Regions from separate parts of the Homo sapiens genome. Here regions 1 and 2 are each linked to region 3. The links come from fine-mapping of genetic effects on gene expression. A gene starts in region 3. Each other region holds a variant in brackets. All regions are shown on one strand. Distances are between the middles of the regions.

Region 1 (2,812 bases), 91 kb before region 3:
TCTGTCAGAATTTACATTTATCTGACCCAGTGTGTGATGGTTGCTAAGGGAAGGATTTGACAGAATGTATCACGGGAACATACATGACTGAGTTAAATAATCAATTAAGACTAAGTGGAAAAATCTGAAAATGGTTTCTTCCAAAAAATGAAAGAAAGCCATTGCAGATAAAAAGGCAACTATGGAGAAAAAATATTTCTCTATTTAGAAAACAGAATTCATGCAATTTCAGGCAGCTCACCGCTAGGCTTCTAGCCATATAAATATTATCTTTTTGCTTATTTTGTTATAGAGAGGATTCAAAAACCCTTACTACTCAGAAAACATCAGAAAAAAAAATCTAGGGTCTGCCTTTGGGTTTTTGTTTCTTCATTTTTTAGGAAAAATAACATTTAATGTTTAAAATATAGCTGTCTTGTTTAATGTTCAGAAAATACTTTTAACAGGATATCTTAAAAATGTGGTTTCTAATCAAGTTTTATAAATAAATTATGCAATATTAAAGTAATATTTATAGTTAAGTATTGACAAAACATTTTTAGGATACAATCGACTCAAATGGTATCTAAACAACAGAAGGAAGGAGGAACTATGTCTAAGAAGGGAAAAAATTCAGAGAATATGGAATCAAATATCCATGCATATCTGACTGTATTAGTCTGTTCTTGCATTGCTATAAAGAACTGCCTGAGACTGGGTCATTTATTAAAAAAAGAGGTTTAATTGACTCATAGTTCTGCAGACCATACAGGAAGCATGGCTGGGGAGGCCTCAGGAAATTTTTGATCATGGTGGAAGGCAAAGGGGAAGCAGGCACGTCTTACATGGCTAGGGAAGCAGGAAGAGAGAGCAGAGGGAGGTGCTACACACTTTTAAACAACCAGATCTCATGAGAACTCACTATCACAAGAACAGCAAGGAGGAAATCTGCCCCCATGATCAAATCACTTCCCACCACACCCCTCGTCCAACATAGGGGATTACAATTCAACATGAGATTTGGGCAGGGACATAAATTCAAACCACATCACTGACTCCTAGTGAGTAGGCAGAAAAAAACTCAAGTGGCCATCTTCATGGCTGTTCCATACTCTAAGTAAGGAAAGGATGCTCAATATCCAAGTATTAAAGACAGAAGATATGTATAAACTGGTTAGTTCCCAGTGAGAAAGCAAACACAATATTCTTGATTAAGATAAATATTATCTTATAAGTCTGAAAAACTGGAATTTTCAGAGCTTTATTAAAAACAGGGTGGCAAATTTGAGTAAAATTCTAATTATAGAGAAACACTGGAAATTACTAGATAAAATCCCCCATGATATTAATCCAGAGGATCAAATTACTGCACAGAGAGTGAGATTAGAGCATCAGCCCCAAACTAGGGAGATTCATAAGTTTGTAGTAGGCAATCTTGAAGGGTCTTGGAATTAAGTCATGGGAAGAGGTTCAGGCAAACAGAACATA[C/T]GAGCAGGCTATCACTGGAAAATAATTCCCATGAAATAAAGGGAAGATATGAAGGGAATTTGCAGGAAAGAGCTATGATCTCTATCCAACCAATTTATGTGAGGGTCTGGTGGCAATGAAGAAAGATCTATTCACAGAGTCACGGACCCAAGTGTGGATTCTAGTCTACAGAAGCACTGGTAAAAGGAAGACACAACTCAAAAAGGAAAAAAAAAAAGTTCTCAAGGAATAAGGAAAGCACCAGGACACATTTTTAGCTCTGGAGCTAACACAGAGGTAGCTGGTGTGAACAACATAGCACCCTTGGAAAGACCAAAAAAACAAACCAATTGAGTGTTATGAAACACATATTCCTATGGCAGTGCCCCGCCTAGGCTCCCAAACCACAAGACTATCATAATGGCCTATATTAGACTGTGCATCATCTCAGAGATATGGAGTGTATGGGAGTCCTCCAGACCAAATAAATGCTTATTGTAGAACCAGAACTTTAGATCAGCACTTGGGGAAACAAAGACAAAGCAATAAAACATGAAGTTAGAATGGCAATTATTAAAAAGTCAAATAACAACATACTGGTGAGGCTGCGGAAAAAGGGAACACTTATACACTGTTGGTGGGAATGTAATTAGTTTAGCCACTGTGTAAAGCATTTTGGAGATTTCTCAAAGAACTGAAAACAGAGCTACCATTCAACCAAGCAACTGGATTACTGGGTATGTATCCAAAAGAATATAAATTGTTCTATGAAAAAGACACATTCACTTATATATGCCTCACAGCACTATTCACAATGGCAAAGACAGGAATCAATCTTGGTGTCCACTAATGGTGGATTGGATAAAGGAAATGTGGTACATATTCACCATGGAATACTATGCAACCATAAAAAAGAATAAAGTCATATCCTTTACAGCAACATGGATGCAGCTGAACACCATAATCCTGAGCAAATTAATGCAGAAACAGAAAACAAAATACCCCATGTTGTGACTTACAAGTGGGTGCTAAGCACTGGGTACTCACGGACATATGGATGGCAACAACTGACACTGGAGATTACTAGAGGAGGTAGGGTGGGAGGGGGCAAGGGTTGAAAAACTAACTATTGAGTACTATGTTCAGTATTGGGATGATGATATCAATCACACCCAAACCTCAGCATCACACCATACACTCAGGTAACAAACTTGCACACGAATCCCTGAATCTAAAATAAAAGTTGAAATTATTTTAAAAAATCAAAATTGAAAATAAAACATGAAGAGGATGGAAAACATAAAAGGGAGGAAGAGATGTGTCGTAGATTACATTTTCCAACAATAGCCACAACAACACCTCCCAT
Region 2 (2,812 bases), 70 kb before region 3:
GAATATTTGTGCACAAATTTTTGTATGGCTATGTATTTTCATTTCTCTTGGCTATATACCTATAAATGGAATTCCTGAGTTATAGGGTAACTCTGTATTTAACATTTTGAGGCACTGCCAAACTGTTTTCCACAGGGGCTCACTAGTTTATATTCCCACCAGTAATGAATGAGAATTCCAATCTCTCCAAATCTTCATCAGTATGCATTATTGTCTTTTTTCCTTTGGCCATCCTGGTGGGTGTGAAGTAGTACCTCATTGTGGTTTTGATTTGCATTTCCCTGATGATTAAGGTTGTTGACCATCTTTTCATGTGCTTATTGGCCATCTGGATATTTTCTTTGGAAAAATACCTATTAAAACCCTTTTGCCCTTTCTTACTTGTATTGTCTCTTTACTAGAGAGTTGTAAGAAGTCTTTATATATCTTGGATTCCAGTCCCTTATCAGATATATTATTTGCAAGTGTTTTCTACCATTCTATAATTCGTTCTTCACTTTCTTGATGGCGTCCTTTGAGGCACAAACGTTTTTAAAATTAAGTCCAATTTATCTATTTTGTTGTTTTTGCTTATGCTTTTGGTGTCATATCTAAGAAACGATTACCGATGGTTACAAAGATTTACTCCTATAAGTTTTCTTGTTAAGAGTTGCCTAGGTTTGGCCGAGCGCAGTGACTCACGCCTGTAATCCCAGCACTTTGGGAGGCCGAGGCGGGTGGATCACGAGGTCAGGAGATCGAGACCATCCTGGCTAACATGGTGAAACCCCGTCTCTACTAAAAATACAAAAAATTAGCCGGGCGTGGTGGCGGGCGCCTGTAGTCCCAGCTAGTCAGGAGGCTGAGGCAGGAGAATGGCGTGAAACCGGGAGGCGGAGCTTGCAGTGAGCCGAGATCGCGCCACTGCACTCCAGCCTGGGCGACAGAGCGAGACTCCGTCTCAAAAAAAAAAAAAAAAAAAAAAAAAAGAGTTGCTTACTTTTAGGTATTACACTTACGTCTATGATCCAAGTTCAGTCAATTTTTATATATGGTATGAAGTAAGAATCCAACATCAAGCCAGGCACAGTGGCTCACACCTGTAATCTTAGCATTTTGAAAGGATATCATGGGAGGATCATTTGAGCTCAGGAGTTCAAAACCAACCTGAGTAACACAATGAGACCCCATCTCTACAAAAAAAAAAAAAAAAGGAAACAATTAGCCAGCCATGGTGACATGAACCTGTGGTCCCAGCTACTTGGGAGGGAGGCTGAGGTGGTAGGATTGCTTCAGCCTAGGAGGTCGAGGCTGCAGTGAGCCATGACTGTGCCACTGCTCTCCAGCCTGGGCAACAGAGCAAGACCCTGACTCACAAAATAATAATAATAATAATAATAATAATAATAATAAT[C/AATC]CAACTTCATTCTTTTGCATGTAAATATCCAGTTGATCCAGCACCATTTGGTGAAAAAACTTATTTTACCATTGAATTGTTTTGGCACCCTTGGCTAAAATCATTTGACCATAAATGTGAAGGTTTAATTCTGGACTTTCAATTCTGTTTCAGTGATTCGTATGTTATCTTTATGCCAGTACCACAGTGTCTTGATTATTGCAGTTTTCTAGTAAGTTTTTGAAACTGAGAAGTGTGAGTTCTCAAAATTTTTTTCTTCTTATTCGAAATTGTTTTGGTTACTATAGCTCTCTTACAATACTATATACATTTTAGAACCAGCTTGTCAATTTCTGCAACAACAAAAATAGCCAGCTGGGATTTACATAGGGATTGCATTGATCAATTTGGGGAGTATCGATATCTAAATATTACATCATTCCAATTCATGAACATCAGATATAGTTCCATTTATTTATGTCTTTTCTGATTTCTTTCAGCAATGCTATTTGGTGTTTTAGTGTTAAGTCTTGCACTTTTGTTAAATTTATTTCTAAATATTTTATTCTTTTTAATGCTACTGTAAAGGGAAGTGTTTTCTTAATTTTATTTTTGAATTGTTCATTGCTAGTGTACACGCATACAATTGATTTTTGTATACAGCTCTTGTATTCTGCAAGTAATTTTTTTTCTAAACCTTAGCATCCACCAGAGGAAATGTGTGAGTCTTTTATTAGTTACTGAAGCCATTTATTACTTTTAATGGCTTTTTAGTGTAGGTTCCTTAGGATTTTCTATAAACAAGATCACATAATCTACAAGTTAAGAGAATTTTATTTCTTCCTTCCTAATCTACATAACTTTTATTTCTTTTTCTTGCCTAATCATCCTGGCTAGAATTTCCAGTACGATCTTGAATAGAAGTGGCAGAGCAGATATCCTTGCCTTGTTCCTGACCTTAGGGGAAAAGCATTAGTCTTTCACCATTAAGAATATGCATTTTGTAGATACCTCCTATCAGGTTACAAAAGTTCCCCTCTGTATTAGTCCATTCTCATGCTGCTATAAAGAACTGCCCAAGACTGGGTAATTTATAAAGAAAAGAGGTTTAATTAACTCACAGTTCCACAAGTCTGGGGTGGGTGGCCTCAGAAAACCTACAATCATGGCAGAAGGGGAAGCAAACATGTCCTTCTTTACATGGTAGCAAGAAGGAGAAGAATGAGAGCTGAGTAAAAGGGGAAGCCCCTTACAAAACCATCAAATCTCATGAGAACTTACTTAATATCACAAGAAGAGTGTATTAGTCCATTTTCATACTGCTATAAAGAAATACCTAAGACTGGGTAATTTATAAAGAAAAATAGGTTTAATGGACTCACAGTTCCACATGGCTAGGGGGGGCTCAAAATCATGGCAGAAGGTGAAGGAGGAGCAAAG
Region 3 (2,647 bases):
TTATGGCAAAAGTACAACTCACCAGTCCTAAATTCCTAACTATATTCATAATTTTTATGCACTCCAATTTTGTGACCACAACGTACCAACATTCCTGCACATCTGATGAGGATTCCTTCCTCCCTCCCAAATAAACTCACACCTGTATGTCTTTTTGGTCCCAAATAACTTCCTCTTCCTCCAACCCATCGACAAAATTTTGATTCTGAGTTAATCCCACTTCCAATCCACTGTCTTCTCAAATTTCATTACTATGCAAGCTCCCTTAGAGCAGAGATTTGTATCTGCTTTATTCACTGCCATTTTCTAAACTTCTAAAAAAGTTCTTAATGCATAGTAAGGCCTCCATAAATATTAGCATCACCAAGGGACTTATATCTGAAACCTGTTACTGAAAAATTACTGCCTTCATCTCCGTTAACAAAGACCAAGCAGCGTAGAGACCCCCGGGCTAGCCAGCCACACCATAGGGAGAGGTGGACACCCTTTACCGAAGATGGCGCCACCACCTGAAAACCGAGGAGAACTGGAAGGAAATCACGCGGTCCTCCGCACGACTGATGAAAGGGCCAGACACCTACACAGAAACACCTCCCGACCCACGCAGGATCACGCGCAGCCAAAACACACGACTCCAGCACTTCCTTCGCGCTGGCTATCCCTTCCTCCCTCACCTGACGATCTAACCCGAGCAGCCCAGCCACGCAGGGGATCACTTCCGGCGCACAGGGAACGCAAAGCTCGCCAGAGGAAAAAGGAAACAGAAACTCCGCAACTTGCGCCTTGGAAATACTGCCGGCTAGCGCTGCGGGAAACGGCTCCCCTTAACTCTGAAGTTCCGCGATCTTCTCTTTGTGCGCGGGCGGATGGATCAACGCCGCCAAGTGGTGAGTTTGGAAGGTTTCAAGTTTAGAAGGTTTCAAGTTTAGAAGGTTTCAAGTTTGGAAAGAAATGAAATTATGTGATGAGGTTTCTAACTGGGCCCAGGAGGGGGCGAGGTAGGCAAAACAGAGACTAGCTCTGCCTGGAGGGAAAAAAAAGCAACATTTGTGACCAGCCTAGGCGACATAGTGAGACCTGTCTCTACAAAAAATATATAATTAGCTGGGCGTGGTGGCGCGCGCCTGTGGTCCAAGCTTCTCCGGAGGCTGAGGTCGGGGGATCGCCTGAGCCCTGGAGGTCGTTGCTGCATTGAGCCGTGAACGCACCACTGCATTCCAGCCTGGGCAACAGAGCGAACTCTATCTCAAAACAAAACAAAACAAAACAAGAAAAAGAAAAAAAGAAGAAAATTAAAAAAAAAAAGAAAGAAAAAGAACGTCCCAGGTCTGTTGAAGCACTAAGAAAAGCAGAAAAAGAAAGGGGAGCCAGGGAAGGGCTGGCAGGCTGTGCAATTTAAGGGAGCACCAGAAAAACTGGCAATCAAATAATATATTAATGTAATATTTTAAAAAGTAAAAATTAATGCAGGAAATCCGGGAGGAACAAAATAAGAGTCATGTGTACCTTAACAACAGGGTAAGGTCTGAGGATTGCGTCATTAGGCGATTTTGTTGCTGTACGAACACCACAGAATGTACTTTGACGACCTAGATGGTGGAGCCTGGACACACCTCGGCTCTGTGGTGTGGCCTGCTGCTTCCAGGCTGCAAACCTGACAGCATGGGGCTGTACTGAATACCGCAGACCATTGTAATTCATGGTAAGTATCTGTGTGTCTAAACATATGTAAACATGGAAAAGGTACAGTACAAATGCGGTATAAAAGATAAAAATGGCACACCTGTATGGGGCGCTTACCATGAATGGAGCTTGCGGAACTGGAAGTTGCTGTGGGTGAGTAAATGAGTGAGTGGTGGCCCAACATGAAGGTCTAGGACATTATTGTACCCACTAAACACTTCATAAACACTGTACACTTAGGCTACACTCAGTTTATAAAAAATACTTTTCTTCCTTTAATAAACTTTCACTCACTATAACTTTATAAATCTTCCAAATTTTTTTACGTTTTAACTGTTTTGTAATAACAATTAGCTTAAAACACACACTGTACCACTGTACAAAAATATTTTTCTTATATCCTTATTCTACAAGCTTTTTTCTACCTTTGCTTTTTTTCTTTTTTTTTTTAACTTTTTAGCCATTTTTTAAAAAAACTAAGACATAAACACACACATTAGCCTAGGCCTACACAGGGTCATTATGATCAATCTCAGCCTTCCACTTCCACATCTTGTCCCACTGGAAGGTTTTCAGAAGCAGTGACACACAGGGAGCTGTCATCTCCTATAACAGTGTCTTCTTCTGGAATCCCTCCTGAAGGACCTGCCTGAGGCTGTTTTACAGTTAACTTTTAAAAAATAAGTTAAATAATAATATAATAAAAAGTATAGTAAATACATAAACCAGTGACATAGTCATTATTAATATCAAGTAACACATGAGTAATACATTGCATTCTGATGTTTTAGCAGGTATGATGTCACTAGACGATAGGAATTTTTCAACTCCATTGTAATCTTATGGGACCACCTTTGTATATGCACTGTTGTATATGCAGTCTTTTTCCAAAACATCATTATGAAGTGCATGACTGTATTAAAATTTTAACTGAATACAGGATCCAAGCCAGACTGGAGCCTGA

Which allele goes with the higher level. Alleles are on the strand shown, and positions count from the first base shown. SD is a standard deviation of normalised expression in the study named. Not every link is listed here.
For the expression in CD8 T cells of the gene that starts at base 1,043 in region 3, AATC is the high allele of the variant in region 2 and C is the other (moderate effect, 0.51 SD a copy in Kasela 2017).

What was found. PIP is the estimated chance that this variant, and not a neighbour inherited with it, causes the effect.
Region 1: its variant is fine-mapped to the expression of WEE2-AS1 in whole blood (TOPMed, PIP 0.98).
Region 2: its variant is fine-mapped to the expression of WEE2-AS1 in CD8 T cells (Kasela 2017, PIP 0.95).

What each region holds. Positions count from the first base shown.
Region 1 is chr7:141,827,782-141,830,593 of GRCh38, reverse strand. No RefSeq gene overlaps it. Among named protein-coding and RNA genes, the nearest start is that of PRSS37, 12 kb to the left of the region's middle. The variant C/T (reference allele first, on the strand shown) is at 1,468.
Region 2 is chr7:141,806,019-141,808,830 of GRCh38, reverse strand. No RefSeq gene overlaps it. Among named protein-coding and RNA genes, the nearest start is that of TAS2R5, 17 kb to the right of the region's middle. The variant C/AATC (reference allele first, on the strand shown) is at 1,394.
Region 3 is chr7:141,736,438-141,739,084 of GRCh38, reverse strand. It overlaps WEE2-AS1 (WEE2 antisense RNA 1), which reads left to right and starts at 1,043. Exons shown (of 4, transcript NR_199841.1): 1 at 1,043-1,702. It overlaps SSBP1 (single stranded DNA binding protein 1), which reads right to left and starts at 727. Exons shown (of 7, transcript NM_003143.3): 1 at 675-727. RefSeq lists an enhancer at 825-1,710.